Homo sapiens: one gene and its partners. The protein of the gene in region 2 interacts with the protein of the main gene of each other region in a pairwise test. Each region holds a gene or a part of one and is shown on either strand. Other genes may lie near its edges. The genes, in order: SAP30L, FEZ2, SMC3 and WWC1.

Evidence for each region.
Region 1: the proteins of FEZ2 (region 2) and SAP30L interact in a two-hybrid assay, tested with the Homo sapiens proteins (one study listed by BioGRID).
Region 3: the proteins of FEZ2 (region 2) and SMC3 interact in a two-hybrid assay, tested with the Homo sapiens proteins (one study listed by BioGRID).
Region 4: the proteins of FEZ2 (region 2) and WWC1 interact in a two-hybrid assay, tested with the Homo sapiens proteins (one study listed by BioGRID).

What each region holds. Positions count from the first base shown.
Region 1 is NC_000005.10:154,455,869-154,462,207, reverse strand, and holds the end of SAP30L (histone deacetylase complex subunit SAP30L), read right to left. Parts: intron 6,309-6,339; coding exon 6,180-6,308; 3' UTR 1,155-6,179; downstream 1-1,154.
Region 2 is NC_000002.12:36,573,666-36,581,447, reverse strand, and holds part of FEZ2 (fasciculation and elongation protein zeta-2), read left to right. Parts: intron 1-16; coding exon 17-158; intron 159-2,582; coding exon 2,583-2,851; intron 2,852-7,782. UniProt on the Homo sapiens protein: Involved in axonal outgrowth and fasciculation.
Region 3 is NC_000010.11:110,598,591-110,606,372, reverse strand, and holds the end of SMC3 (structural maintenance of chromosomes protein 3), read right to left. Parts: intron 6,720-7,782; coding exon 6,561-6,719; intron 5,935-6,560; coding exon 5,827-5,934; intron 5,352-5,826; coding exon 5,243-5,351; intron 4,737-5,242; coding exon 4,489-4,736; intron 4,408-4,488; coding exon 4,195-4,407; intron 3,900-4,194; coding exon 3,708-3,899; intron 3,549-3,707; coding exon 3,371-3,548; intron 3,190-3,370; coding exon 3,083-3,189; intron 2,143-3,082; coding exon 2,071-2,142; 3' UTR 325-2,070; downstream 1-324. UniProt on the Homo sapiens protein: Central component of cohesin, a complex required for chromosome cohesion during the cell cycle. The cohesin complex may form a large proteinaceous ring within which sister chromatids can be trapped.
Region 4 is NC_000005.10:168,294,608-168,302,389, reverse strand, and holds part of WWC1 (protein KIBRA), read right to left. Parts: exon of another isoform or gene 6,106-7,782; intron 1-6,105. UniProt on the Homo sapiens protein: Regulator of the Hippo signaling pathway, also known as the Salvador-Warts-Hippo (SWH) pathway.

The DNA of each region.
Region 1 (6,339 bases), on a different chromosome or scaffold from region 2:
ATGGTGTCCTTCAGCAACAATCCATCACTAATTCTGTGAGCTCCTTGGTGAGAGCCAGGACTTCCTGTCCTCTCAAATATCTCATGAAAAGCCACCCTCCACACTCCTTACAGGGGAGTGGAATGGGAGAGGAGAAGGATGTGGGAAGGAAAGGATCTGCACTTTTAAAATTTCTGTAAGGCTTAAAATTTTAGAGCTAAGATGTATTACTTCTATGTAACTAATATGATAAAGACAAATATTTATTGCACTTCTCCCTTTTCATTCTGCTGAGGACAAAGCTGTGGTAAAGTGGCACTAGAGACAGGCTTGAAGTGGGAGACCTGAACTTGAGGCTTGCCTTTCTCTTCTCTAGCACTGTGAGGACAGGCGAGAGGCGTCATCCGGTAGCCTCAGGGACCTCCACCAGGAACGTGCAGTCATACTGCCCTGGCTTCTCAAGCTGTAGTATCCCTAGGGAATTTGCTACTATGCAGATTCTGATTCAGTAGACGGCCAGCAGGAGGGGCTGGGAGATTCTGCATTTCCAACAAGTGCCCAGATGATGGACCAACTTTAAATAGCAAGACTCTACTGTAGGTGAAGAAACTCCAGGTCACACGCTGTTAAAAATGTCTTTGAGACATTTAAACATTGGGATGTTTACATGAAGATCTGAATTTCCAGCTTCTCCAGTCAAATTGCAAGACCCGGTCACACAGGGCTGGTGTGCCCATAAGGCTACAGTAGCGGGGAGCTGAGTAGTGGCTGCCCTTAGAAGGGACCTGAGTTTTCCAGTTTGCAGCTCACCCTCTGCAGATATTTCAATGTGCAATCAATCCTCCATACAGTTTATTTAGATGGAGAACTGAAGACCCAGAGAGAGAACTCTATTTGCCCAGTGCATCCAGTACACTACATGGAAGTTGAGCTCCAGACTCAGGCTGTTGGACCCAGTCAGTCTCTTTCCAGGTGAGTGAATGGGATAGCAGTACTGGAACTTGGGCCTAACCTTCTGGGATCTAAACTCAGTGTGCACTGGGGATGTAGGTGCTAGTATTTGGAGCTGGGAGGAAAGACCACTGTCATTAATCACTGTAATACACTGCCAGGGGCCAAATGTGGAAGTGAAAGCATCTGAATTCTATATAAAAATTCAAAGGGAAGACAGAGGGTCTCTTACTCATTCAGATTATTTATTAAGAGCAAAAGTCGGGCCATCCCATCGTGTGATATTGCAACATGAAAAGTCACATACATACTAAGGAGACCCCACAGAATTGAGAGCCTTTCAACAGTACAGAGCCATAGATTACGAAGTTAAAATACAAATGATCCCCCAGATTTGGCAGGAAACAAGTACAATATGAGGAGGCCTGGAATGGAAGGGCACTTACTTTTCAATAAGGCAGTTACAAAATGGGAAAAAAAACCCCCAAAACCTTGTACCCCAAAATATACTCTGATGAGCGTAGCAGACAATAGAAATGTAAAAGAAGGATCCTGTATAACCCTCTGTCATTGGCAAATGTGTGCATTAAGTGAAAGCAACTGAAGGGTTTGTGTTTTAAGATGCAAGCTAGATGAAACAACTGACTGTAGACATTTCTACCTCAAGAACAGTTCATATCTTGCCCTAGGCTGGGTTCTACCTCAAAACACCAGACCCACTTTACCATTTCTAACCATAAACTTGGAAACAGTCTATAATACAATGAAAGGAATAAAAAGGCACCCCTAGAGCACCATGCTTCCCAAGGCATGATCTTGAGCTCATCTGCCCTTCGGTTCGACTGCCCAGCTCAGTAACAGGGACCAGGAGCCAGGGCCAGCTGAATTACACAACCTCAAAGGATCGCCTGGAAGGCAGATATCTGACCAAGAGATCACAGACCAAGCACATTTCATGAGAATTTAAATGCTAGGACAATACTACCTCTCCCAATAGGGCTTTTGAACCCTGGTTTTAAATAACAGGCTAGATCTGTTTTCCCTTACCACTCATTTTGCAAAACTCAACTGGCCTAAACATTTCGCTCAATCTTGAGTTCTGCAGGTTGGTCCCTGAGAGCTAGGTTGGCCTTGGGAATTTCTGCTCAATTTTAAGTTCTCAAGAATCTGAGGGCAGCCGATTTAGACTGAATTAGAGTCATCCTATAGGTCAGAAAGAAAGAATGCTAGACAGGTCAAGAGGGCCAGAGGTTGGTTCTGATAATGCCATATGACCTCAGGCACATCTTTTTGAGTTTTAGTTTCCCCATCTCTAAAAACGGATGATTGGACAACAGCAAGCTTAACAGACTTTCCACCTTGAAAATACGGCACTTCTCTGACGCTTAGACCTTAAGTCCTGAAGCGTTGTTTTCTCAGCAAAAACAGTGCAAAGTCCTTACAGGAATCTAAGGTACAAGCCCTGGGCAACCATGAAAACTTTAAACTTCATGCAAAGCAACGAAGTTATAAATCCTCCAGCTGAACAATTTCCTGATGATGTGAGCATCCGTTTTTGTGGGGCAAGCACAGAACTGAGTCCTCATCTGTCTGAGGTTTAGCAGGCTGCTAACATCTTCTCATCCCCCTCTCCTCTCCCCAAGCTTTGGCAGAAACAAGCCAGCCAGTAGGGTTTTCTCAACATTCTCCAACAAGGAACTGAGTGGACTAATACTCAGGGGTAAGGACAGTGTACCAAAGTGTCCATGTCCTAGCATTGTTTCTTTCCAAAAGGCAAACGCTATGCTTTGGGACAGTGCCAGCAATTAGGTGCTTTGCCAAAAATAACTTGTCCCATGTGGCCCCCATGGGGCAGAGACTAAGATGGAAATTACAGAGAACATAGAAAAGCCAGAGGTTTACAAAGAACAGGCTTCTCCACGAGGTAGTGGGTTCTCTGTCCTCGGAGGTGTTTAAGTCCAGACTGCTCAACCCCTTGGTGGGATGGTTGTAGGCAGAATGTCAGCACCTATGTGGAGACTAGACTGGATGACTTAACAGCCCTTTCCCAACTTTGAGATCCTGTCATTGTAATGACTGAGAGCGCCTTTGGATGACTTCCATGAAGCAACTGCTCTGGGCAACAGCCTCCCTCAATAGGCAAGGCCCCCAGAGTAAGCTCCTTCTTCCATCCTCTCCCTCCCAACAGGCAGTTGCCCTGCAGGATATTAACAAAAAGCTTCCCACAAAATAAAAAGCCTAAACACCAAAATTAGATGCAACACTGCAGCTGCAAACAATTGTTACTATCTGTTCTCTGAAAGGCTAGCAGTGACTATTTAGCTATGACAGGAACATCTAAAAACTTGGCAGCTGTAACATGTAAGTAAAATTCCTCTTCATTTTACAACACCGGTCTTGAATCCTTTGGTTTTTAATCTTTCATGAGATTCAGCTGTGATCTTTTTTTTTATATGCTGTTGCCAACCTAAGAGTTTGTTCCTTGAAGCAAGAAGTTTGTCCATTGGTTTTTAAAACATCTTAAAACAACATGAATGGCAGGATACTGATGTTTCCATGTGAGAACCTTCAGGGCATATCAAAGAACCATACCAGGCTGGAACTGAGGCAGGAACCATACTCTTTAAGAAGACAACGCCAGTTCTGGATTTCAAATTCCAGTTTTGCCCAGAAGCACCAAGAGGAAAGAAGGCAATGCTGCTACGTCACAGGTGGAGAGAAGCGCAAGAGTCCTTGATGGATGGTATAAAAATGGAGCAGCCAAGATGAACATTGCTTTCCCCACACCCCACTGCTCCCTGAAGCCAGACCCCGTTGCTCTGGAGGGCCTGGCCACTTCTCACAGGCAGGAGTCCCTTGCCCACAGATAGAGCCACCAGAAACTGCAGAAGAGGCTAAGGCGAGTGGTTTAGTGGTTTGATGAAAGAACAGATTTCTGGACATAAGAAAAACATAGGTTCAAATAGCTTTGTCTTTTCTCTCACCTGACCTGTTGAAAGGTCAGATTGAAAAGGTTGAAAAGATGCCCACAACCTCCACTTTCCACAAGCACCTCTCCTTAGAGGAAAGACAAGGGACCCAAGTACACACACAGCATCTGGCTGAAGGTAAAACATTTCCCCAGGTTTCGCTTTGGAATAAAGATTCTTTCAGACACAATTGAACAGATGGATCCTACCATCATATATTCTTGTGCAGAAGCTATTGTCTCTCTCAACTGGGAAAACAGATTTGCTGCTAAAGAAATAGTGATGTGACCTACACGCCCACAATTCTGGTTTACGTATCAGAAAAATACACTTTTTTACTCATTAAGATATGGACATTTCCATGGAGCAAGTTAACAATGCCTTAACCTGCAGGCCCCATCTGCCCCTCAGCCTTCTTGATGCCTGTATCAACATCCTTCAGCTGTAAGCAGGGAGAGAATCTCTAAACACATAGTGAATGTGAATGACTGAAAACACTCACAGAGCACTGGACATGCCATCCACAGCCAGGAGGCATACCAAAATAGGATGCCCTCACAGTCCAGAGTATATTCTATATACAACCATTTATATATATTTAATTTAAAAGGCTGCAATCTGCTAGACATGCATTTTGAACACAGGCGAAAGCTTTGCTGCAATGGAACATACTGCATTTTAGTGAGCGTGGTGACCCTGTCCCCATTCCACAGAAAGCGTGGTACTCTGCTCCACAGAACTGAGACCTTTGGACACTCCGCCGCCCTGCTCAGTAGGGGGTTTAGTCCTGACTTCTCTGTGATGGTGCTCAGATTAAGTCATCTGTGAAACTCTCTGCCAGGCCAGGCTGTCCATTGTTCTTATTATTTAAGGCTTAAGAAATTAACTCAGAATTGAAACTGAGTAGGAAAATGACACCTTTGACCATATGTCAAGATGGTCATAAATTAGAATCCAAATTCTTTTCTTTTCTTTCTCCCACCCTCCTACCCCATACCCTCTGCCCTCCATTACACAGATTAAAGAATTTTGCAAAAGCACATTTTTGGATATAAAGCTTTGTTTTCACAGGATACTTTGGCTCTGATATAATTAGATTGAGGAGTTCAACGTTTTGAACAACAAAAAAATTAGGTAATTTTCAAAAATTATTTTAGCAATCTTTCTCCCTAAGAGGGAGGCAAATTGTTCACAAAAATGAGCATCAGATGGAATTGACCTTTGTTGCCCAAACTCATGATTTGCTGATGACCAGAGCCCAGGGAGTCAAGGCCAGCCAGACTTTCAATCCTAAGCTGAACTTCTGGGCAGGAATCACATGGCCCCTGGCAGCTTGCATGGTGGTTGTGAACTTAGGATGAAAACTTCTAAAAATACTTGCCCCAACCTACTAAATATGTCAGTGTGTCAATGCATTTATTACCAAGAAGCTTGGCTGAAGTCATAATATCTAACTGCACCCCAAAGAGTGAAGCATAGTGGGGTGCATAAGGGACCGTATCTTCTGTGAGGGTCTCTATATCAGTGTTTCTGGAACCTCAACGAATAGTTTTGCACATGCAACTGTCCTGAAATCCTTATCTGATCAGAAACTTCCTTGTTGGTGCATCAGGATTTCCTCCACATTCTAGCAGTTAAGTGGTGAGCAACAGAAATGGCAGAGGTCTCAGTCATGAGAGGTGTGAAGCGGATGTTACAAGGCTGGCACTATTAGTGACAGCTCAATTAGCCAATACCTACTGATTGAGTGCCTACTGTGTACAAGGCACAGGGTGAGTGAGGGGGACCAGTGTCAAACTGATCTGCTGATAAATGACAAAGCTTGCAACAAAGCGGGCGGGATATCTATGTCGCCAGCGGGCAGCATGCAAGTCCAGATGTGGGTCTGCTCATGCACTTCCATGGCCAATTGCACCTTGCTGCTATTCCAAGCTACAGCTCACACGTGGCAGCCTGGTGGATAAGGTGATTACCAAAATATTTCTTATCCCACATTTCCAGTAGAATTGATTTAATGCTTTGTTGAATGCTGAAATACATAGTTTTTAATTCTTTTAATGATCCTGATTTTTTTAGTCCAGAGTTATCGTAAAAGAAAGTCTTTCTATACACATGCTGAATCATGAGAATATAATCCTCCTGACCAAAAAGATTTACAGTATTCATCATTCAAACTTTTTTATTTACAATAATATTTAACAGTCTTTATGGGCTTAAATGTAGTAGATATCACCTGTGCATCAAGCATTACACTTCATTCCTTTAAGATGTGCTTCATCCTCACTCAAGCTGCTTGCCACCCTCCGATTTCTGGTCCAGTCTACTCTTGTTACTCTTCACCATGTAGATGAAGTAGGCAAGGGTCTCTTTTTCATTCACAGGTATGTTCCTGAAGTGTCGACTCACAGTCTATGTGGGGGGAAAATACCAAAGTTCCTTA
Region 2 (7,782 bases):
GTGTGTGTTTTCGAAGGTTATTGAAGAAATTGAAGAAATGATGCAGGAATCACCGGACCCAGAAGATGATGAAACCCCTACACAGTCAGATCGGCTTTCAATGCTTTCCCAGGAAATTCAAACTCTCAAGAGGTCTAGTACCGGCAGTTATGAAGAGAGTAAGGGAGCCTGCTGAAATCAATGATTTCTGTGCTTTTTGTCTGTATCAAATGTATAGTATGATCATCTCCAGAAAGCTTTGATTTCATCCTCCTTCTGTTTGTGTTTGTGTCCAAATTTACATTTTTGTTGTTGTTGTTGAGACGGGATTTCACTTTTTGGCCCAAGCTGGAATGAAGTGGCATGATTTCAGCTCACTGCAACCTGTGCCTCCCGGGTTCAAGCAATTCTGCCTCAGCCTCCCAAGTAGCTAGGATTACAGGTGCCCGCCACCACGCCTGGCTAATTTTTACATTTTTAGTAGAGACGGGGTTTCGTCATGTTGGCCAGGCTGGTCTCGAACTCCTGACCTCATGATCCGCCCGCCTTAGCCTCCCAAAGTGCTGCAGTTACAGGCGTGAGCCACCATTGCCTGGCCCCAAATTTCCTCTTACAAGGACAGCAATCATATTGGATTAGGGTCTATCCTAATGACCTTATTTTAATGTAATTACCTCTTTAAAGACCATATACTGTAACATTCTGAGGTACTTGGGGTTAGGACTTCAACACATGAATTTTGGGGAGGACACAATTGAGTCTATAAGAAACCCCATCATATTTGAAGTGTAGAATAGATATTCAGTAATTATTTGTCAAATGCAATTCCTGTTTGTACAAATAGTCTTGTGTGTTACTATGAAGAATTTTGGGAACCATGGATCTGTTTGACATATGTGAGAATAATGAACTCTAGAAACTCTACAGTTGATTTTCATGAAAAATGTCTGAATAAATATAACCAGCCTGTGAACAGCCTGAGGCTGGTTGGAAGGTGTGTATCTAATCATTGCCATATGACTGGTCCCTTCCTTGAATAGGCACTGATGGGGTCTGTATCTGCTCAACTCGTGTTGTCACCTAGTTTTATCTTTATGGCATGCCCAGTCCAAAGCTTAGTTACCTAAAGACCTTTGGGTTGTATGGCTTCAACATACAGATGGTCAGACAGACCAAATTCTTTCAGATGGTCTGATTTGGCCATGTTCCTGTAGGTATGGGCTAAACAGTGTTAACGTCCTGACTCCCAAATACAGTCCTGATACCTGATACAGATACTAAAATCTGTATTGGTTTGCTAGGGCTGCCAGAACAAAGTACCACAGAGTGGGTGGCTTAAACAACAGGAATTTATATTCTATAGTTCTGGAGGCCAGAAGTCTGAGATGAAGGTGTTGGCAGGTTTGGTTTTTTTCAGAGGCCTCTCTCCTTGACATGCAGATGGCTGCCTTTTCCCTATGTCTTCACGTGGTCTTCCTACTGTGTCCTGATCACCCTATTTTATAAGAATACCAGTCATGTTGGGTTAGGGCCTATCCTGATGCCCTCATTTAACCTTAATTTACCTCTTTAAAGACCCCCTCTCCACATTCTGAGGCCCTGTGGGTTGGGACTTTAACAGTGTCCTATCTGTCACAAGGGGCAGAAGTGCTGAGAAAAGACTGAAATGGGGTTTCAGGGAATATTGTTCCCTTTTGTCTTCCCAGTTTTTTTAGTCCATTCTTGCACTGCTATAAAATGCCTGAAACTGGGTAATTTATACGAAAAGAGGTTTAATTGGCTAATGGTTCCACAGGCTATACAGGAAGCCTGGTAGCATCTGCTTCTGGGGGGGCCTCAGGGAGCTTTTACTCATGGTGGGAGGCAGAGCTGGAGCAGGTATCTTCACATGGCTGGAGCAGGAGGAAGGGGGCTGGGGGGAGTGCCACACACTTTTAAACAACCAGGTCTCATAAGAACTCTGTCATGAGAACAGCACCAGGGGGATGGTACTAAACTGTTAGAAATTGCCCTCATGATCCAGTGACCTCCCACCAAGCCCCACCTCCAGCATCACATTTCTGTATGAGATTTGGGTGGGGACACAGATACAAACCATATCACCAATTTCAACAAAATTCACAGATCAGGACTTATGTAATTAAGTGTATATTTAGTTTAATTCTTTCAGATCAACTCCTTTCCTGTTCAGAGATATCCCAGAACCCTGCTGAACGGCTTGCAGTTTTTTGTCAGCAGGTGGATTCTGTACTTTCCCTCGACTTTTGTGTTTGTTCTTTTCCGTGTACAAGCCTTCACAGTCTTGACTGAAGTATTATTCATGCAATGATTTATTTGCACAAGTAAAAACTTTTGTTAGACTTTCTTGCCAGCAAGCTGAGAAGTGACTCACCTGCCCACTTACCTCTACTCAGATCTGATCTCCAGAAGTTGTAGAATTCTGAGAAGATCACCCACAGTCAATTTAATTGCTTGGAATATGATTTTTGCTCTTTGGCATTGATTACATAGGTGTTTATTTAGTCATTCCTAGTGACTACTCTGTTTTGCTTCCTTGAAATGTTTTTGTCTTAATATCTGCTGTATTTTGCTTTTGGTCACAGGAGTGAAAAGGCTCTCAGTGTCTGAGTTAAATGAAATCCTGGAAGAAATTGAGACTGCCATTAAGGAGTACTCTGAGGAGCTGGTGCAGCAGTTGGCTTTACGAGATGAACTGGAGTTTGAAAAGGAAGTGAAAAACAGCTTTATTTCTGTTCTTATTGAAGTGCAAAACAAACAGAAAGAGCACAAAGAAACAGCAAAAAAGAAAAAGAAACTAAAAAATGGCAGCTCTCAGAATGGGAAGAATGAGAGAAGTCATATGCCCGGCACAGTAAGTGATGTTTTGCAGGAGGCGTCGAACACTGGAAACAGGTTCTGTGGTAGTCCCAGCCTTTGGGGCTGGTGGCAGGTGCGACAGGTTGTACATGGGCAGGAGTGTTAACACTTCTAATCAGAGCCCAGTGGGATTTTATTCCAGAATACCGCTGTGCTCAGCTTCTTCAGAAAGTCGTTTTCTTGACTAGGGTGTACTGGTTATCTGAATAATACTGAAATGTTTAGCAAGGATGTAAGTGGAAGGAAGAGGGGGCAAAAAAGGAGAATGTCTTGAAGAAAAGAAGCTTTAGCAAGTGAACATTTTTACCACATCAAAATGTGAAGAGTGGTTATGTATATTTGGCTAGTAGTTTTTTTCTTATTTTTGCTGAACTCTTACGAGTTGTGTGATAAGAAATTAGAAGGGGTTTATTTAGAGGTATCAGAACTCTGCTCAAGGCACAAATTGTTTGTAAACAGGTTCCTCCTGATTTTTCAGTGAGGTTGGAATACAAGAAGGTAAGTGACATCAGCCATGTGGCCTAGTATTTGGCAGACTAGACTATTTCTGACTGGTGAAAACAAGTTTAGAACATCTGAAACGCTGACCCTTTGATAAGATTTTTTTGTGTTGAAGTCTTGTGTATTCCCACCTTGATTTTGTTTGTGTGTGAAGAAATGTTGGTTTTATTTTTAGAGTATGATGGTTGGGTAAAGGGATCTCTTTTTCTAAATGGGACATCTCTTTTTAATTTGTGATATCAATAACATGGTCTTACAAATCACAAACTAGCTATTATGGCTTGCAATAATATGAGTTCTGTTTTTGATAAAGTCTGATTTACTTATCTAAAGAATACTTAGCAGAGAAATAGATCTCATTAAGCAGATGCTGATGGAATCCTGGAAATACAGTTCTAGGATGGTGGGCCACCAATGAGCAGTTAACACAAAAAGAGTCTTACCATATAGCTCATTTATTATGCTGTAATTAGCCTATGAATAAATCCATTTTTTTCAGTGTAATGTTCATTTGTATCTATTTTGAAAGGACATCGTGGCTGGGCACGGTGGCTCGCGCCTGTAATCCCAGCACTTTGGGAGGCCGAGGTGGGCTGATCACCTGAGGTCAGGAGTTCGAGACCAGCCTCAACATGGAGAAACCCCGTCTCTACTAAAAATATAAAATTAGCCGGGTGTGGTGCTGCATGCCTGTAATTCCAGCTACTCTGGAGGCTGAGGCAGGAGAATTGCTTGAACCCAGGAGGCGGAGATTGCGGTGAGCCAAGATCGTGCCATTGCCCTCCAGCCTGGGCAACAAAAGCGAAACTCCATCTCAAAAAAAAAAAAAGGACATTGCTTATGCACTGACTTTGAAAAAAGTTCTCAGGTATCTATTATTTTTAAGAAATGGCAGTATTGATTGAATAGGTGTTTATTTAGTTATTCCTAGTGAGTACTCTGAAAAAAACCCAAAACCAACCCACATTTGTTTGAATATACAATCCTAGAAAATTTGCTTTAAAATATTAGGGACACTATTTTGCATTTGCATCTCATATTTTTAGAACTGGCACCCTTTAAATTGCCCTGTTATGCAAGTGAGATTAAATAAAATGCTTAGTTAAAAAGTCATAGCATGGTTGGTAATTTCTGCCTATTTGCTTTTAGGGATTACATGTAAATCCTCCATTTATTGCTGTTAACACTTGGCTGAGAAAAGTAAATTTATCCCTAGAGGGGTTTAAAGGCTTCGTTTTGTAACTCCCATGTAAAAAGGGTTAGAGTAAATCTATTGTGTAATTTTACATGGCATTTATATTGAGAAATGGATTTGGCAAGGCAACAGTTAGGTCTTACTTCAGCCTTCATTGGTCTTGAAATAGATTCATAGTAACAGTAAATATTTTTCATAATATTTGAACTTTTGAAGTTGCATTTTGCCTGATTTACAATTTGTGTCAAAAATTTTAATCAGTTCAGTAATGGCACGGCTAAGCTTGCAGTACTAGTTTCCTGTATCCTTTTAAAGCCTAAAATGCGGCCGGGCGCGGTGGCTCACGCCTGTAATCCCAGCACTTTGGGAGGCCAAGGTGGGCGGATCACCTGACGTCAGGAGTTCAAGACCAGCCTGGCCAACATGGTGAAACTCCGTTTCTACTAAAAAATACAAAAATTAGTTGGGCGTGGTGGCGCATGCCTGTAATCCCAGCTACTCGGGAGGCTGAGGCATGAGAATCGCTTGAACCCAGGAGGCGGAGGTTGCAGCGAGCCAAGATTGCTCCACTGTACTCCAGCCCGGGCAACAGAACGAGGCTCTGTCTCAAAAAAAAAAAATAAAAAGCCTAAAATGCCAGGGAAAGACCTTCCTATCTGTGACACAAGTAGGCTGGAAGGGTGATTCTGAAAATAGTGGTAGGTTGCTCAAAAGAAACCCAAAGTGAAATAGGCAGTTGGATAAACAGATTCCAGGAGCTTGCCAAACATTTTACCAAGCATTTTATATCACATGCAGTCTTGGCAAGACCTGGTCTCTATGAGTTTGCTATTATCAGTGATACTAATTCCTAAAAAATGGTGACCTCCTTAGAATTGTCATATGTTACCTGTTTTTCCAATAACATAAGTCACTTTTTTTTTTCTCCTGCCTGAGATATTTTTGTTTTATTAGCAGGACTTGAAGTTTTTCGTTAAGTATAGAATAGCTTCCATTTTTCTTCATGTATGTTTCACTGAAGCAGTACATCAATTTGTAGTTGGCATACCACTTAATCTAAAATTGTTACCTTGTTCTCTTTGGTCCAAAGATACTCTAATGAAATATTGGAGTGGGTATAGAGCAGAGTTAAACTTGGAGACAGATTTTGTTTTAAATATTTGTTGTGGTGAAAAAAAAAATAGAGGGCATAGGGATGCTATTTAGAGCATTGGAAAATTTCATTAGACCATGAAAATATGTGAAATGTTACAGAAAGTATTATCTTATAAAAGTGAAATATGATTTTGATTGGAGTTTTAGGTTTAAAATAACCATAATGCTGTATGTTGGGTAAGATGAAACAATATTCATTCATTCAGCAAGGATTTGTGGAGTGCTTTCCTGTGGCAGGTGTTCTTCAAGATACAGTGGGCAGGATGACTCATGATGGTAATTCTAGGACTTTGAGAGGCTGAGGTGGGAGGATTCCTTGAGCCCAGGAGTTTGAGGCCAGACTGGGCAATATAGTGAGACCTTGTCTTTACAAAATAAAAATTATAAAATTAGCCAGGTGTGGTGGCATGCACCTGTAGTCCCAACTACTTGGGAGTCTGAGGCGAGAGGATTGCTTGAGCCCAGGAGGTTGAGGCTGCAGTGGGCCATGGTCACACCACTCCACTTACAGCCCGACCTTGTCTCAAACAAAAAACAGAAAAACCACAGTGGTGAATAGAATAGAATAGATGAGGCCCATCCCATGCCTTCCTGGAGCTTATAGTCTAATGACGGAGAAAGGCAATAAACAAGGAAAAAATGAATAGATGATGGAATTTTAGTAGTAAATAAAGGCCATGAAGAAAACCAAAGGCTGGGTGAGGTGGTAGATGGTGATGCTGTTGGGAAGCTGTTTTGGAGAGTGTCACTACACCACTGCTTCTCCTCATTGACAAGGGAGCCTGCCTAGTCCCTTTCCAATTCTCCGTTTGAAGAGGAGGTTAAAGGAGTGGACCTCTTTGGGAAGTGCAACTCAAGAGAGTGGCAGGCTTTATATTTCCTCTGTCCTTTTTTGCAGCATCTGGAGGAGCAGAGGATGGGGGGTTAGAGAGTGGTTAAAGGGCACTGTCTGTTTATCACTATGGTGACCTACATGTATTTCTTTGTGCTGACCATGCTGTTTTGGGTGACACTTCTTTATATTCAATGCTCTTCTTCTGGAATCAAATTCCTTACCTGCTGCTTCTGTCCACTTGGGGGATTTTTTTTTTTTCTCACTCATCCTTTAAAATCATGGCCAAGCATTGTCTTCCTTTCTTAGAACCTTCCTTGATGACTCTGTCCGATGCAGAGTTGACTACTCTCTCTTTTTAGAGGGGTTAGTGTTACTCCTCTTTAGTATTTCTATTATCACTGTTGTATCATACTGCAATTTTTTGTTTTCATGCCTATCTCTGTTTTATGTCCCTAATGATAAGAAATTTAACTTTACTTTCTCGGTATTCGTAGATCCAACCTTAGGTACCTAATAAATTTCTGCTGAATGAATGAGTGAACGAAAGATAAACTTGCAAATATATATTTCTATATTGGATCTTTCTGCCAGGTGTCAAACCCATGGACAGTGAATATTGTCTAAGACAATAGAATATTGACTAAGAGCTTTGGGTTAAGAGCTGTGTTTGAATCTTCGTCCTACATACAGACGGCTTTGAATTTTGGAGAGATTAAATGAAATAATGTATATAAGATTAGCAAACATAGCAAACACCATGAGTAAATGCTAATTGTTATATATGTCCAACTGCCTACTAGACAATTCCCTTTGGATATCTTGTAGGAGTCTGAAATTTATACTATTAAACCAAAGTTACCATTTTCCTAAAATTGAATTATTTTCTTTTGGTTAGCAAAACTAGTTTATCCACTCACTGAAACTGATAGAATTTCCAAGTCAAAGAATATAGAGTTTTAAATGGCTTTAAATGACCAGCTTTTCAAATTATTGTGTAGAAGTGTAGCCCAGTAGAGCGTAAGAGTGACCATTTTCCCACACCTCCCGCCAACAGGAGATATTAAGAGCTTTTGAATATACACTGCACAGGCAAACAATGGGTTTGATCTGTTGACCATTTGTATTCTTTTATGAGTTGCCTATTATGTTTATATGCCTGTTATGAGGTGTTTTCATATTTATTTGTGAGGGTACACATACTTGTGATATTGAAGTACCACACTGTGTTGTAATCATTGGC
Region 3 (7,782 bases), on a different chromosome or scaffold from region 2:
AGCGTGGGTGATGGGATGAGACCCCCCCCACCATCTCTTAAAATATATGTTCTTCAATTCCACTATGGTGAATGTAATGTATTTGTAACAGTATTAACAAAATCTCAAAGTGGAAGAATCAGTACTACTCTGAGGAAAGGACTATCCAGCCAAAGAGAAGCATAGATTTTCTTATGAATCACTGGCTAACTCCTTGGGTAAATGTCTGTCCTTCCTCTAAGTTTCTGGGTTAAGCATGCTCAGGATTGTCACATTTTTCTATTCAGTCTCATTAGAATTAATTCATGACTAAGATATCGCAAAGAATATAGGCTTTTACAAAAATTTTGTTTCATTATTTAGATGCTTTATTGTTATAAATTTACTGGCATTTCATTATACTAATATCCTTGGGGAAATGCTTAAGAACAATATTAAGAAGTTCTAGAATGATGTTATGTTTGTAACATCCCTTGAATTGAATCCTGGAACTTACCTTACACCAAATTCTGTATTATAAGGGGTTGGTCATATCAGAGCAACTCTACAAATCGTAAACTATACACCAAGCATTCATGATGAATATTCTTAGGTAGTTGTTTGAGAAAAATTCTTGGGTAAATGTGTAAGAAAAATGGTAGAAATATTAGAAAGATATTATAGTTACGTAACCCTTTGAATGTAGTCATAGATAGAACATATACCAAATTCTCTATTATAGATCAGTTATGTTATAGCAAAGCTACAAAGTATAAATAATACACCGAACATTTAAAGATTCAGCCAGTCAAAATGAAAACCCAAAGTAAACTCACATTTTTAAATTCAATTTAAAGTCCCATTACTATTTCTTTATTTTAAAAGTATCTCTTTAGGTATTTCTGGTTTCCAATGATGGAAGAGTAGCTCCTAACAAATTCTCCTGCAGATAACCAGTATAAACTCAGGCCAGGGGAAATCAAGAAAAAGAAATTAAAGGTAAATATTTGAAAAGGAAGAAATAAAACTGCCTCTTTCTTGCAAATGACATGACTGTCTATGTAGAAAATCTCAAAGAATCTACAAAAAGCTACGAGGACTATTGAGGTAGTTTTCCAGGGTCACAGGAGACCCCCAGTGCTTAAAGACCTACTTTCAAAGAAAAGAGTAGTATGGAAAGGGAAAAAAATGTAACTTCACAACAAAGAAACCTGGCAAGTACAATGTTGGGTAGGTGATCAAGGTAAACATCAGTGATAAAACATGTTAATAATATGTACTATTATATGAGGTAATGAGAATACTTCGCTTCTGTGGTATTAGCTCCAATCTAACCATGAGAAAAATATTAGACAAACCTAATTTGAGGGACATTCTACAAAATATGTGAATATTATTCAAAATTGTCAAGATATGATAAACAATGACAGAGAAATTGTCACAGACTAGAGGAGATGTAAGTAAATGTAATGTATCCTCTGTGGGATCCTAGAAAAGAAAAAGGGCCTTAGTGGAAAAACTAGTCAAATCTGAATAAAATCTTGAGCTTAGTTGATAGTAATGTATCAATGATAAATATACCATGGTAGGGGCTGATTTTGTGCTTCCCTTCCCAAACTCACATGTTGAAGTCCTAACCCTCAATACCTCAAATTTAACTGTATTTGGAGACAGGTCTTTTAAAGAGGTGATTAAGTTAAAATGAGGCCTTACATCCAATCTGATTAGTGTTCTCACTGGAAGAGACTATGACAAATGAAAAGCCACATAAAACACTATATTAGTCATAAAACCGATTATTTAATTGAAGCTATAAAAAAGGTAGTATAAGTGATAAAATAATTAGGAAAGAATATTTAGCATGTTTCAAAACATTTAAAATAGGAGCAGAACATTTTACAAAAAGTTGTACAGGAAATTAAATTCTTAAACTATCAGTACAAACATGACATTACAGAGTATCTTATAAAATACAAAGACAAATATAAAAGGACTATGATGCTTTAAGTCTGAAAACTATTGGCCAAATATTTAGGTTTAAATTTACAGTTCCTGGGTATGAGAATCATATTACTATATACATCTCCCAAACCAGTAGGTAGTATTTTCCAATTAACCATGTGTGGTATCATCTTCTACAAAGTCTTTGGCCATCTCTGCTGTGATCACATCAATATGACTAACCTGAAGAATAAATGTTAAAAACAAAAATCTGTTAATTACATCAGTGTTTACATTGTATAGGGTAAATATATACAGCCTATCAACTACATTTAACTACATTTTTTAATTTTTAGTTTTTTTTTTTTTTTTTTTTTTTGAGATGGAGTCTTGCTCTGTTGCCCAGGCTGGAGTGCAGTGGCACCATCTTGGCTCACTGCTACCTCCGCCTCCCAGGTTCAAGCAATTATTCTGCCTCAGACTCCCAAGTAGCTGGGACGACAGGTGCACGCCAGCATGCCCAGCTAATTTTTGTATTTTTAGTAGAGACGGGGGTTTCACCATACTGGCCACGTTGGTCTCAAACTCCTGACCTGGTTATCTACCTGCCTTGGCCTCCCAAAGTGCTGGGATTACAGGCATGAGCCATTGCGCCCGGCCTATCACCTATATTTTACATATGAAGGAAAATAATTCTGAAGCACTGACTTATAAAACCTTTATTTACAGTGGTGTTTGTTCAATGCATAGATTTAAAAAATATGTATTTTAATGCTCTGAAGAAATAAATATCATGCCTAAACATCTAAACTACCTTTTTGTTCACTTTCTATTACTTTGCTATTTCATCAAGAATTTTAAGGTTGGGAAGACACCCAGGAAGAGCTATGCAGTCTATACAAATGAACATATATAATTGTTAAAGACTGTGCATTACAGAAGCATTGAATAGACTGGACAGAAAGATATTGTTTATTAATGCCAATGAAAATAAAACCAATGCAACGCCATAAAATACTGCTAAACTTCATAGTTATTTGAAGGAAAAGTTCTTTCTTTACAAAGACATCAGATAAGCAAAGACTTTCTAAGTTTTCTTTCACTATTTAAGTAACATAAAATCAGAATTCAACAAATATAATTGAATAAATACAAACTTAAACTCAATGTAAAATAAAATTACCTTATTTCTGAACTTTACACCATAGAATTTGTCAGCTGACTCAAGCAGTTCAGGCCTAAAAGTAGTTGTAATAAACTGAGCATGTACAGCAAGTTCCATAATCATATCTGTAAAAAGAAAATTGTGCTTTAACAAATTTCTTTTCAGCAGATCTGAAAATTTAAAAAGCAACTATCTTTACTCTTACTAAAATTCAAAACTGCCTGAGTTTGATTTTTTCATATATACATCAGCAAATATTACCAGCTTATTGTTAAATACAAAACCAAAACTGTACTGAAACTGTACCTGACACAGCCTTTCTGTGCTGAGCATCCAGAGCCTGGTCAATTTCATCAAACAAGTAAAATGGAGCCGGGTCACATTTCTGAATGGCAAAAATCAGAGCAAGGGCTACCAAGGATTTCTGTCCACCTGAAAGCTGTTGCATTTCTCTCATTTCACCTTGTTTTCCTGTAAATGACACCTAAAAATAAACATATTATGAGTTAATATCCTAAAGGGCAGAATCACCACCATCTTTCAAAAGTAACTTGCATATAATGCACCAATCAGATTTGCAAAAGATACTATAAATTCTATTATGGTAATGCTCTGAGGAAAATGGAATATAAAGGTATTTTACCCTAATTCCAACTCCAGTAAACTGGTCAACTGATGGGACACTGCTTTGTGAGCCAGAACCCCTCTCACTCTCACCACTCCCTTCTCCTTCATCTTGAGACTGACTGCCCTCCACATCTCCTTTCTTCATCACCAAAGTAGCTTTGCCACCAGGTACTAACTTCTGGAATACTTCACTGAAGTTCTTAGATACCTTAAAACAAAAGCAGATTGAAATATAAATTTTGCTTAGAATTATATATAACACTTAAGTAAAATATTTAAAAGCAACCAATTATTTTTTAATCTTAAGAACAAGGATAACAGACTAGATCCTTCTAAGGGCTGTGTAAAACATTCAAGTTACTGTAAACCTATATGCTAGGTTTGTTCACATGTATTAGATTCACCTGGTAATGAGGAAAACAGCTTTAAAATCTTTACAAACTGAAAAGAGCTGGAAGCTTTTGTCCTCTGTGTGTATGTTTTAACTACAAAGCGAAACATACCTGTTTGAAAGTTAACTGAATAGCTTCATATTTCCGAAGTTCAAGTACATTCATCAGTTCCATGATTGATTTGTAACCCCTATCTAACTCTTCTTGACGCTTTATTAACTTTTCTTTCTGCTCGGAGAAATTTACAAACTGATCCAAAGCCTTTTTGTTAACATGGCTGTACTTCTTTAATTCTGTGTTGCACTGCTCAAGTTTTCGAAACAACTATAAAGAGAAAATATGTATTCATATAAATAAATTTATATACTGAGCAATTTGTAACAAGACTTCAAATTTAAAACCAACCTGTTTGAGGCTCAGTGTCTGGTACTTTTCAAATGCTTCCTGGGGAAGTGATCCAAGTTCTCGAATTTTCTTCATACACTCTTCTTTCTTCTTCAATAGCATGCCTTGCCGATTTGTCATCTTTTCCAGTTCTTTAGTATCATGATTTATAGCATCCATATGTTCTTTTTCCATATTTTTCCAGCGCTCCATACTCTTCTGAAGCTCCTTAATTCCAGCTTCTGTTTTATCAATGGAATTGTCCAAATCTAAGATGGGGGGAAACAAAATTAGGCTATAATACCTATAAAGCCAGTGTTATATGTTGAGTATAGATTTTTATGATCAAACCTACCAAAATAGGTTTTAGGTTTTGTGTTTAAAATTTTCTGTGAAAATTTATGAACCATGTTAAGTCAGTACAAAATTAGAAGTATATATGAGTCACTCAAATATATAATTTTCATTATTCAATGTTAATGCTTATAAACTATAGTTATTTTCTAACAACTAAGTGATGAGAAACTTTCGTCAGGTATTTCATATTTTATCAACAAAATGAATCATTTATGGTCTCAAAATTGTCATAAACATTTCAGTAAAACAAAAGTTACTATTTATAGTCAACTTCCTAAATTCCATTTGCTATACATTGTTTATAATGGAAAACAAAAAATCATTAGCATATGCTTCTGCCTATTTGGACATTTCATTCTGTAGTAAACAATTTTATAAAACATGCATATAAACAAAATTTTACTACATAAAAATTCACCTTCTGATCGTGCCATAGTGTCTTTTACTCTTTTATTGATGGCTTCAAGTTCTGATGTTGTGGCTGTGAGAACAGTACCCCCTTCTGTCTCTCTCAGCTCATTAAGTTCCTGTAACAAAAAATACAAATTCCATTAGTTTCAAATGTTATGACTGCCAACATTTTCTATGGCTATTGTCTGAATAAACATTCAAGAAAACAAAAAAATATAAATACATCATATAATTACAAATACTTAGAAGTATCCATTAAAGGGAAGAAAAAAAAGACACAATTACTAGAAAATTTCTAAGCATCTAACCACCACTGAAAAAATATTAACAAAGTACTTAGAATGTGTCAGGATAGCAATTATATAAAACAAGTATGATAATGCTTAATTCACACAAGAAACTGAGGCTTAGAAATAGTGACTTGTCCAAAATCACACACTAGGTGGCAGAATTCCAACCCAAGGCCCACAAGACACTAAGCTTTCTGTCCCCAAAGCCCATGCTTTCAATCAGAGCCTCTGATATAACCACTTGCAATAGGTCATGGCCACCAAGGAGCCCTTAAAAAAAAAAAAAAAAACACATACACACCTGTTCTACTTGGTCCAAGCGTTTTCTCAGATTCTCATTGAGATAAGTCTCTACTCGAGTAATAATACCTTCTAATTTAATTCTTTCATTTAGCAACTGTCTGTTTTCCTAGAATTAAGAAAAAGTTGTCTATATAAGCATGTACATTTCACACACAGGAATGGTGCTCATTTGCTGTCCTCTCTAGTACTTGTGCTCATGTGAGCTGAAATGAAGTTTAATATGTTATATTCTTCAAAAAAGCCCTATACTTTCTTCATTTTTCTCTTATCAATTCATAATGTTAAATTTTTGTGGCTGGCCCTTTTTATAACGCATGCTGTCAAAAACAGTTTCTTTAAATGCTTTTCATTTTTTAGAATCGGTGTTGGTAGTTTACATCTATGCAGTTTTAAAAATCAATTAAAATGCTTGATCAAAACATTAAATATGTAAAGGCAGTAAGATAAATATGGTAAGGCTAACAAGCTCAAACTCATAGCAATACTTACAACTAATAAGTAATGCTAATTAACTAAATTTTAAGGAAATGAAAATTTCTTGTATAATCCTAACCTAGCTAGATTGGTTTAGAAAAACAAAATCTTATTTACTCCTATGTATATTAAAAGTCCAAGCCTCATTTTAATATTTTCTCAGTTCTTTTCTTTCATATTGCCCTAGTTAGCAAGAAAGGCCCTTTTCACAATAGCCAATTACTAACGAATTCTTTTTCCAGTCAGCTGTCTACTTACCTGCTGAAGTTGACGAATCTCATCATTCAGTGCATCTACTCTCTTCTGATCTTCCAAACTCAGTTGAGAAAGCAAATCAGTTCCCAGTTCTGCTTTCAATGACTCTCTGGTAGACTCCATAGCATGCAAGCTTGCCTCCAAACTCTGTAAGCTACGTTGCTATATGACATTATCCATTTATTAGTAAGGTATTAGCCACTGTATTACTTATAGTGAAAATTTTAAAACAATCTATATTTGATTGAGCTAAATATATAGACATATCAACTCAAATATTAGGTGCCTATTAATTTGGTAATTAGGACTCTAGCAACAAGAAAAATATGATGTAATAGTATAGGTGGGGCAGGGTGGGGCAGATCATATTCCATGATTAAACTATACAAAAATCTTCAGGCATATTATAAGAACAAAAAGTTGCCGGGCGCAGTGGCTCACGCCTGTAACCCCAGCACTTTGGGAGGCCAAGGTGGGTGGATCACGAGGTCAGGAGTTCGAGACGAGCCTGGCCAACATGGTGAAACCCGTCTATACTGAAAATACAAAAATTAGCTGGGTGTGGAGGCACACGCCTGCAATCCCAGCTACTCTGGAGGCCGAGGCAGGAGAATTGCTTGAACCCAGGAAGTGGAGGTTGCAGTAAGCCGAGATCACGCCATTGCACTCCAGCCTGGGCGATAGGGCGAGACTCCATCCCCCTCAAAAAATAAAAAGTTGTCAGAATATGGTTGGGATGGTACAACTGTAGGCACATCTTTTTTTTTTTTTTTAAGCTCTTTGTAGTTTTAGTATTATACTAAGTAAAAGATTTGTCAAAACTGTCAAGTTTATGAGACCAATAACACACTATCACTTATAAGTTTGCTTTCTAATTTTAATACAATCTGGACAAAACGGAATCAAATATTCAACTAATTCCATTGTGCTTCAGATAAAAATGGTTACTGACAAAAACTGACCATCAGACAGTACTCTTATGTCACAGCTTCAAATGCCTATTTGTTCAATGAAGGTGGAAAGTTTGAACGTGCCAACAATAGGAGACTTTGGGTATCCATGGGTTTAAGAATGGTAAAATAGATGTAGATATCCAAAAGTATGGGTCTAGCCTGGGCACAGTGGCTCACACTTGTAATCCCAGCACTTCGGGAGGGCAAGGCAGGTGGATCATCTGAGGTCAGGAGTTTGAGACAAGCCTGGACAACATGGTGAAACCCCATGT
Region 4 (7,782 bases), on a different chromosome or scaffold from region 2:
GTGCACACCCCATTGCAGCAGGGACTTTGCTCTGATCCTCCGCTCTGGCAACAGAGTCTGAGCACAGTAGGCACTCCATAAATACCTGCTGAGTGAATGGCCAACCCCCCGCTGGGTGGGACGTGATAAATGCCAATGCCCTTCCTGCAACACCACCATGCTCAAATCAGCAGGTCCTCAAACAGCTCTCAAACAGCGCAAAAGGGAAGACTGAGTGAGGGGACATGATATCAAAGCAGTTACAAATGAGTTCCAGAGACCTCCAGTTCCTGCATCAGCCTTTTTAGCTCTGCCATGACAACTGCAATTCATTACCCTGATTCACACACAGCCCTGGTGCCAGCTCACTGGCAAGAGTCGCTTCACTCCAGAAATTCCAAAGAAGGGCTTGCCCCTGATAAGACTGGGGGAGGAGGGGAGTTTACTGATTCATATAATGAGTGCTGCCAAGGTGGTTTGCGAGCTCTAATGTCAGTGTGGCTCAGGTGAGCCATGGCCCGCCAGGAAGAGACCTGAGTTGGCAAGGAAGAAACAGGGGTTTTAGTTCCTCTACCGTTACCAATGCACAGGAGGGTAGGTTGGCCTAACTGGAAAGGGCTCCCATATGAAGGCATGATAGGCGCTAAGACTTTCTATGTTGGATGTCATATCCTCACCATGACTCTCAGGGGTAGGTAGGTTCTATTCTTATCCTTGTTTTATAGCTGAGAAGGAACTGGTTCAAGGTCACTTACTTTTTTTTTTTTTTTTTGAGACGAAGTTTTGCTCTTGTTGCCCAGGCTGGAGTGCAATAGCACAATCTCGACTCACTGCAACCTCCGTCTCCCAGGTTCAAGCGACTCTCCTGCCTCAGCCTCCCGAGTAGCTGGGATTACAGGCGCCTGCTACCACGCCTGGCTAATTTTTTTGTATATTTAGTAGAGATGGTGTTTCACCATGTTGACCAGGGTGGTCTTGAACTTCTGACCTCAGGTGATCCACCCACCTTGGCCTCCCAAAGTGCTGGAATTACAGGTGTCAGCCACTGCACCCAGTCCCACTTACTATTTTAAAGTGACAAAGCCAGACTTGACTCAGTGTCCTCTAATGATCTTTATGGAGAGCTTATCTACTACAGGGAATCGTGAATCGTGTGGTATGCAATCCCATGTTTGGGTGGAACAACAAACACATACACATTTTTTTCCATAGTGGAAAAATGAGCTTGTCACTTGACTTGTCTCTCGGCCTCAGTTTCCTCATTTGCAAAATGCCATAAAAATATGATGAGCAATAGTGTTTGGCACGTGACAGACAATGGATAAGGATCTTTAAAGACAATCATGATTATTTATCACCATTATCACCAGGTGCCAGTTATTGTTCTCACTGTTAGTGATACAAAGACAAACAATGCACTTAGAAGAAATTCCTGGAATACAGTGAAATGCTCACAGCCCGACTCTCCAAGAAAAGCCACGACAGATGTAGGACTGGAAGGCTGTCCCAGGGTCATCTCATCCTAGCAGCCACCTGATGCCTGCATCTTGACATTTTATCCTTCCAAGTCTGTTACCCGTCAGTGGATCCCAGGGGCTACCCCAGGGACGAATCCAACAAGTAACCACCACTGGGCGGGGAGGAAGCCAGTGTGGGGGTTGCTACCAAAACAGGCCTGGGCAACAGCAGGCAGCCGACTGGGGAAAGTCAGCAGCTGCAGTTGGCCTGGTGTCCTCGCTGCCAGAGAGTGATGAATGGAGCAAGAGAAGAAAAAAAAAGCCAACAAAGGTGTCCCTAATCTTGATGCAGCTTCATTTTTTTTTTTTTTTCTGGCTGACCATTGAGTGAGAACTTAAGCCTCCGTCCCTTTTCTTTGGCAGACATTTGAAACTGAAAGATCTCATTTCTTCCCAACAGTGAGATGTCATGGGTAGAAGCATTGAGCAGGCAACTGGCAAGGGGTGGGGGGTGGGGAGAATGGGCATGTGACCCACCACACTTGTCCTTTTTCTTTCCCTCCTCCCCACTCTCTGCTCCACCCCCTCTTCCCCATCCTGCATCTTTAGAGAATATTCTCCGCACACAACAGTGAACGCCTGCCCCCTCCTCCCGCCACCCCATTATTATTTTTCTGCTCAGGAACTAAAGGCTAAATGGCCTGCTGGGGAAGGTCTAATAACAAAATGTCACTGTATCCAGTTTCTTAGTTTTCTCTTTCTTTATCTCACTCTGAAACGGATTCGAGGCAGCAGCAACTGAACCTTTGCTGTTCTACCTAAAGGTGTGCAGCCAGCTGGCCATCTCCATGCTGGGAGAGGCAAGACGGGAGTTTTTTGCCCAGATCTAGCCCTCAGCCCTGTCCAAGTGGAGGTGCTTCCCTTAGCAAATAGCGAGGAGCTGGTGATAGGGATGTCACCAGGCCACTTCTCCAAGTGAAGTGGATTCCTCTTATCCAGGGCCCCTTGCTGAACTGGAGGCTGCAGAGCCTCATCACCTAGCACCACATGTGGCTGGAGAGAGCTCCTGATACACGTCATGGACAGCCACCTGACATTAGGTCGGCATTCCCTGCAAGTGCCACTGAAGCCTGATCAAGGCTTCTGCCACTGAGGGAACCGTGCAGCAAGACGGTGGCCACCTTCGACTCACACTTATTCTAGCCCTGTTTCTCCTTACGTGCACCTGAACTTGGCGTGCCAACCTTCCAGGTAACTAAGGCAACCTGATTCTCTTCCCTTCAAAAGGGCAGTGTTCTTCTCACAGCAATCTGGGACCCCAGGGAATTGGAAAATTGGGTCAGTTTGGATAAGCCCTCTCCCCGGGAGGGGGAGGGATGGCGACAGAGAGGAACGGCCTTGGCTACTCATTCCCTGGCTGTTGGGAGCATTTACCCAAGCGACTTGGAAAGGACTGTGAACTCCTTGTACACACTGCATCCTTCAAAGAGTCCCTCTGCCTCCATCTCTCTCTCTTCTCCCATCCCCAAAGCTCTGGTTAGCCAGCTGCTCCCAGAAGGTGGAGTTTATGCCAAACAGTCTCCTAAGCTGCCATGAGGATCTCACTGGCTTCTCTGGTTAAGGCTCCTTAGCAAAGTCTCTCCCTGAGATCCACATCAGGTTCACCCATTTTAAGAATAAATGGTAACTCTCAAGCCCAGCTGTCAACAGGGCACTCTGGGGCCCTGAGATGGATTAATAAGCCAGGACAGAGCCAGACCAGGCTACAGCTAGTATGAGTGTAGATGCAAGAATCCAGCTAGGTGGGCTCCAGTCCTGGATGCAACACCTGTTGGTGATCTTGAGCAAGTTACTAAACCTTTTTTTTTGAGATGGCGTTTCGCCCTTGTTGCCCAGGCTAGAGTGCAGAGGCGCGATCTCAGCTCACTGCAACCTCCGCCTCCTGGGTTCAAGCGATTCTCCTGTCTCAGCCTCCTGAGTAGCTGGGATTACAGGTGCGTGCCACCACACCTGGCTAATATTTTGCATTTTTAGTAGAGACGTGGTTTCACCATGTTGGCCAGGCTGGTCTTGAACTCCTGACCTCAGGTGATCCACCCACCTCGACCTCCCAAAGTGCTGAAATTACAGGAGTGAGCCACTGCGCCCGGCCGGTTACTTAACCTTTCTAAATTTCAGTTCCCTCATCTGAAGTACTTACCCCATATGGCTGTTGAAAAGATAAAATGAGGTCACAAAATAGAATGCTTAGCTCAGTGGGCAGCAGAGAGTAAACACTCAATAGATGCTGGTATTGACTATTATTTTATTCTTCTCTGGGTTACCAAATCTCTTGCTTCTCCCTATTATCTATCCTAGTGTTTTTAAACCTCATTTCTTTCTTAATAATTGACATAGGATGTTCCCAGGCATGGTAGACTCCCATGGAATACGTAGATCTTAAACTCAAGCCTCAGAAAAAGATAAAAAGCCCTCTAATCACTTGTATGTAAGTATTATTATTATACATCTACAGGTATTAGTGGATCATTAAGAGCAGCAGCATGGAGAATAAAGAGGTTCTGGGTAACTTCCCTGGCAGACTGGTTATAACTCTCACTTAAGAAACCTTGTTGGGTGGGGCACAGTGGCTCACACCTGTAATCCTAACACTTTGGGAGGCTGAGGCAGGCGGATAACTTGAGGTCAGGAGTTCGAGACCAGCCTGGCCAACATGGTGAATCCCTGTCTCTACTAAAAATACAAAAATTAGCTGGGTGAGGTGGCATGCACCTGTAATCCCAGCTACTCGGGAGGCTGAGGCACGAGAATTGCTTGAACCCGGGAAGTAGAGGTTGCAATGAGCTGAGATTGCACCACCGCACTCCAACCTGGGTGACTGAGCAAGACTCAGTCTCAAAATAAAATAAAATAAAATAAAACAAAGCTTGTTGGAATATGACATTAGACTGACAATAACTCTAAATCCATTTTAATTGATTATAAAAATAGGAATTCACTTGCAATCACTGGAAATGTAATCATTTGACATACAGCAAATTCCTATGACACAACTCACAAATGATTGTGACGCACGATGAATGCAACTTCCTGGTCTATACAATCAAAAACGATTATGGAGAATAATGCAGCCATGCACATAAAATATGTGTGAATTATTATCATTGATGAGAAGGACATAGATCTGACTTTTAGTAAAAAATTTATATAAGAGAAAGAGAAAAAAGAAACTTTTACTAGACTCGAGGTTGGCATTTATTTTCTGTGTGACCTTGGGCAAGTCACTTGTCTCTGGTTCTCAATTTCTTTTTTTTTTTTTTTTTTTTTGAGATGGAGTTTCGCTCTTGTTGCCCAGGATGGAGTGCAATGGCGCGATCTTGGCTCACCACAACCTCCACCTCCCGGATTCAAGCGATTCTCCTGCCTCAGCCTCCCGAGTAGCCGGGATTACAGGCATGCACCGCCATGCCTGGCTAATTTTGTACTTTTAGTAGAGATGGGGTTTCTCCATATTGGTCAGGCTGGTCTCGAACTCCTGACCTCAGGTGATCTGCCCGCCTCAGCCTCCCAAAGTGCTGGGATTATAGGCATGAGCCACCGCACCAGGCTGGTTCTCAATTTCATCAGTGAAATGAGAGGCCTGGATTTCACGAACAGAAAGGTCCACTCCAGCTGCAAAATTGGGTAGATATGCAGCATCCATTTGATGCTGCTGTTTCACAGGTACGTTCTAGGAAAAGTTAAAGGAACTGGCATTCCTCAGTGTCCCCTGCATGTCAGACTTCAGGCTTGCTGCCCTACCTACCTTCACTTACTTATCACCCATAACTACCCTTGATGGTTGATGGACATCTTTCCATTCATTAGAAGGCAAACGCAAGGTTCAGGGACAATATGTCAATTACCAAGGTAACTCAGGTAGCAAGTGGCAGATCCAAGATTCCAGGAGCCAAAGACTCACTTATCTACATTTGCCCTCTAGGTGCCCATGACCTGACCACACCAGAATGGTCACAGGTAAGTGAAATCATGCCTGTTTTGGCTCCATTTCCCAAGGCCAAATTCCTTAGGCACTGGAGCAGTGGTCTTGATTCTGCAGCTAACTCAGCAGGAAGTAAAATGAGGCAGTGGTTAGAAATGTGTGTTCTGGTGTGAGCCCGCCTAGTATTCACATCACAGCTCCACAAAGGTTGAGGGGCTTTACCAAGCCTCCCTGAGCATTGGGTAGTTCAGGTGGGTAATAATTGTACCTAGTCCCAGGGTTGTTAGGAGGATTTAAAGAGATAACCTATGTAAAGCTCTCAGCAGACTGCCTGAATATAGTAAATACCCAATCATTATTTGCTACCTAGCTAAACAGGAGGCCTTTCCATGGTGACAAGCAATTTCCAAGCTTATCTATGGCAGGGGTTATGAACCTGGGGTCCAGGAGGTCCCTGAAATTATGTGCAAAAACCTTTTCTCTAGGAAGAGTTCTGAACCTTTATCAGTCTCATAAGGGTCTGTGACCTGACAGAGGTTTAGACTTTTTGACTGCTGTAGACCTGACTTCCTACCATATCAATTATTTCTGAAATAACAGGGTTAGCAAAAGATCCTCAAGTCATGGGAGAAGTTGCTGGATCCTCTCAGCATGGCCTCTCCAGCCATGTGTGCCTCCGGTACTTACCATACAGACCCAGAAACTGCCCAGAATTCCCAGGTGGTTCCTATGAGAAGGTCTGAATACAAATCGCACAACAAGAAGGAATCAGGCTGCAGGAACCTTCTCTGGGAGGGCCAGCCCCAAAGATCTATTCTTCCTCCGAGAACAATCGGTGCATTTGTTTTGCATACCACGAAGTGAAATACACAGGACGCTGGCCCCTTCGCTAGAGCTCACAAAAGCACCCAGAGTTACTCCGCAAAAGGAGCACGGCTCCAAGGTGCTGTTCAGACCTGATCCACAGCACCTGATTCCCGAAGGGCCTGTCACCTTCCCAGGCTGGCCTTGACTCAGGAAAAGCCTGTGGTGCTGCTGGAGCCTTTGGCCCAGTGGGCAGGACCCAAGCTGCCCACTGGACCCTCTCCGGTTGTTGGGACAACCATCCTCAGGAATTTCGGCCTCCCAGTCTTCCCCTGGGTGAGAAGGGGAGAGAGTTGGCAAGGCTGGCTGCTTGGCTGCTCTTCCAACCCCCTGGTGAAAGGGGAAGCTGAAAACTGGATTCCCTACCCCCAGCAGCTCCTGGCCGGCCAGCACACAAAACAGCTCAGCCCCAGAGGGAGGAATGTGCCAAGACATTCTTTAGGGTTGGTAACCAGAGACGCTATTTTGTCCTTGGTGGCTAAGAAATCACTTTTCTGACTGAAGGACCATTTGACTTACTTCTTTTAAATTCAGGGGAATGGGTGGGCATCTCCATGATTCAGGTAAGGAAAAATCCAAGGCAAATAAACACACACACACACACACACACACACACACACACACGGAGTAGAAATTTTTAGTGCAATTTTTTGTCTCACAGCATTAATTAATTGCAGGGATATAACTACCTTGGCAGAATTTTTTCTCCCCAACCCACCACCCCCCGGAATAAGTTTGGCTCTTTTCAGCTTTGTTAAATTTCTTCTTCCTTTTTCTCATAGCCCATCCCTGTTCCCCCTTCTCCTCTCATGGAGTCTGGAGAGGTAAGAGCGGCAGAAGGGTTTGAAATAATATTTAAGAGCTGGCAGGCCCTTGAAGACCATCTAACCAACCCACTTCTCAAGCACTCAAACCTCAGAGAGGTCAAGTGATTTGCCCAAGGCCACACAGACAGAACTAAAAGGCAAAAATGGGGTATGCCGGAGGGAAATTCCAGAAAACCACAAGTGGCTATCCTCCAATTAGCACTTTTCCAAAACATACAAAGCTGGACCACAATAGTGACCCCCAGAGTTGACATGAGACCCCCTCAGGACCCCAAGTTCAGGGGCCCAATACCACCCCAGTCCAGGTGGGATGACAAGGAGGTACAGAGATGAAGTTTATAAACCAGTGACCCAAGGCCAAGCGTGGTGGCTCACGCCTGTAATCCTAGCACTTTGGGAGGCTGAGGTGGGCGGATTGCCTGAGCTCAGGAGTTCAAGACTAGCCTGGGCAACACAGTGAAACCCCATCTCTACTAAAATACAAAAAATTGGCTGGATGTGGTGGCGTGCACCTGTAGTCCCAGCTACTCGGGAGGTTGAGGCAGGAGAATCGCTTGAACCCAGGAGGCAGACTTGCAGTGAGCCAAGATCGCACCACTGGACTCCAGCCTGGGCGACAGAGCGAGACTCTGTCTCCAAAAAACAAAAACAAATAAACAAAAAAACCAAAAGC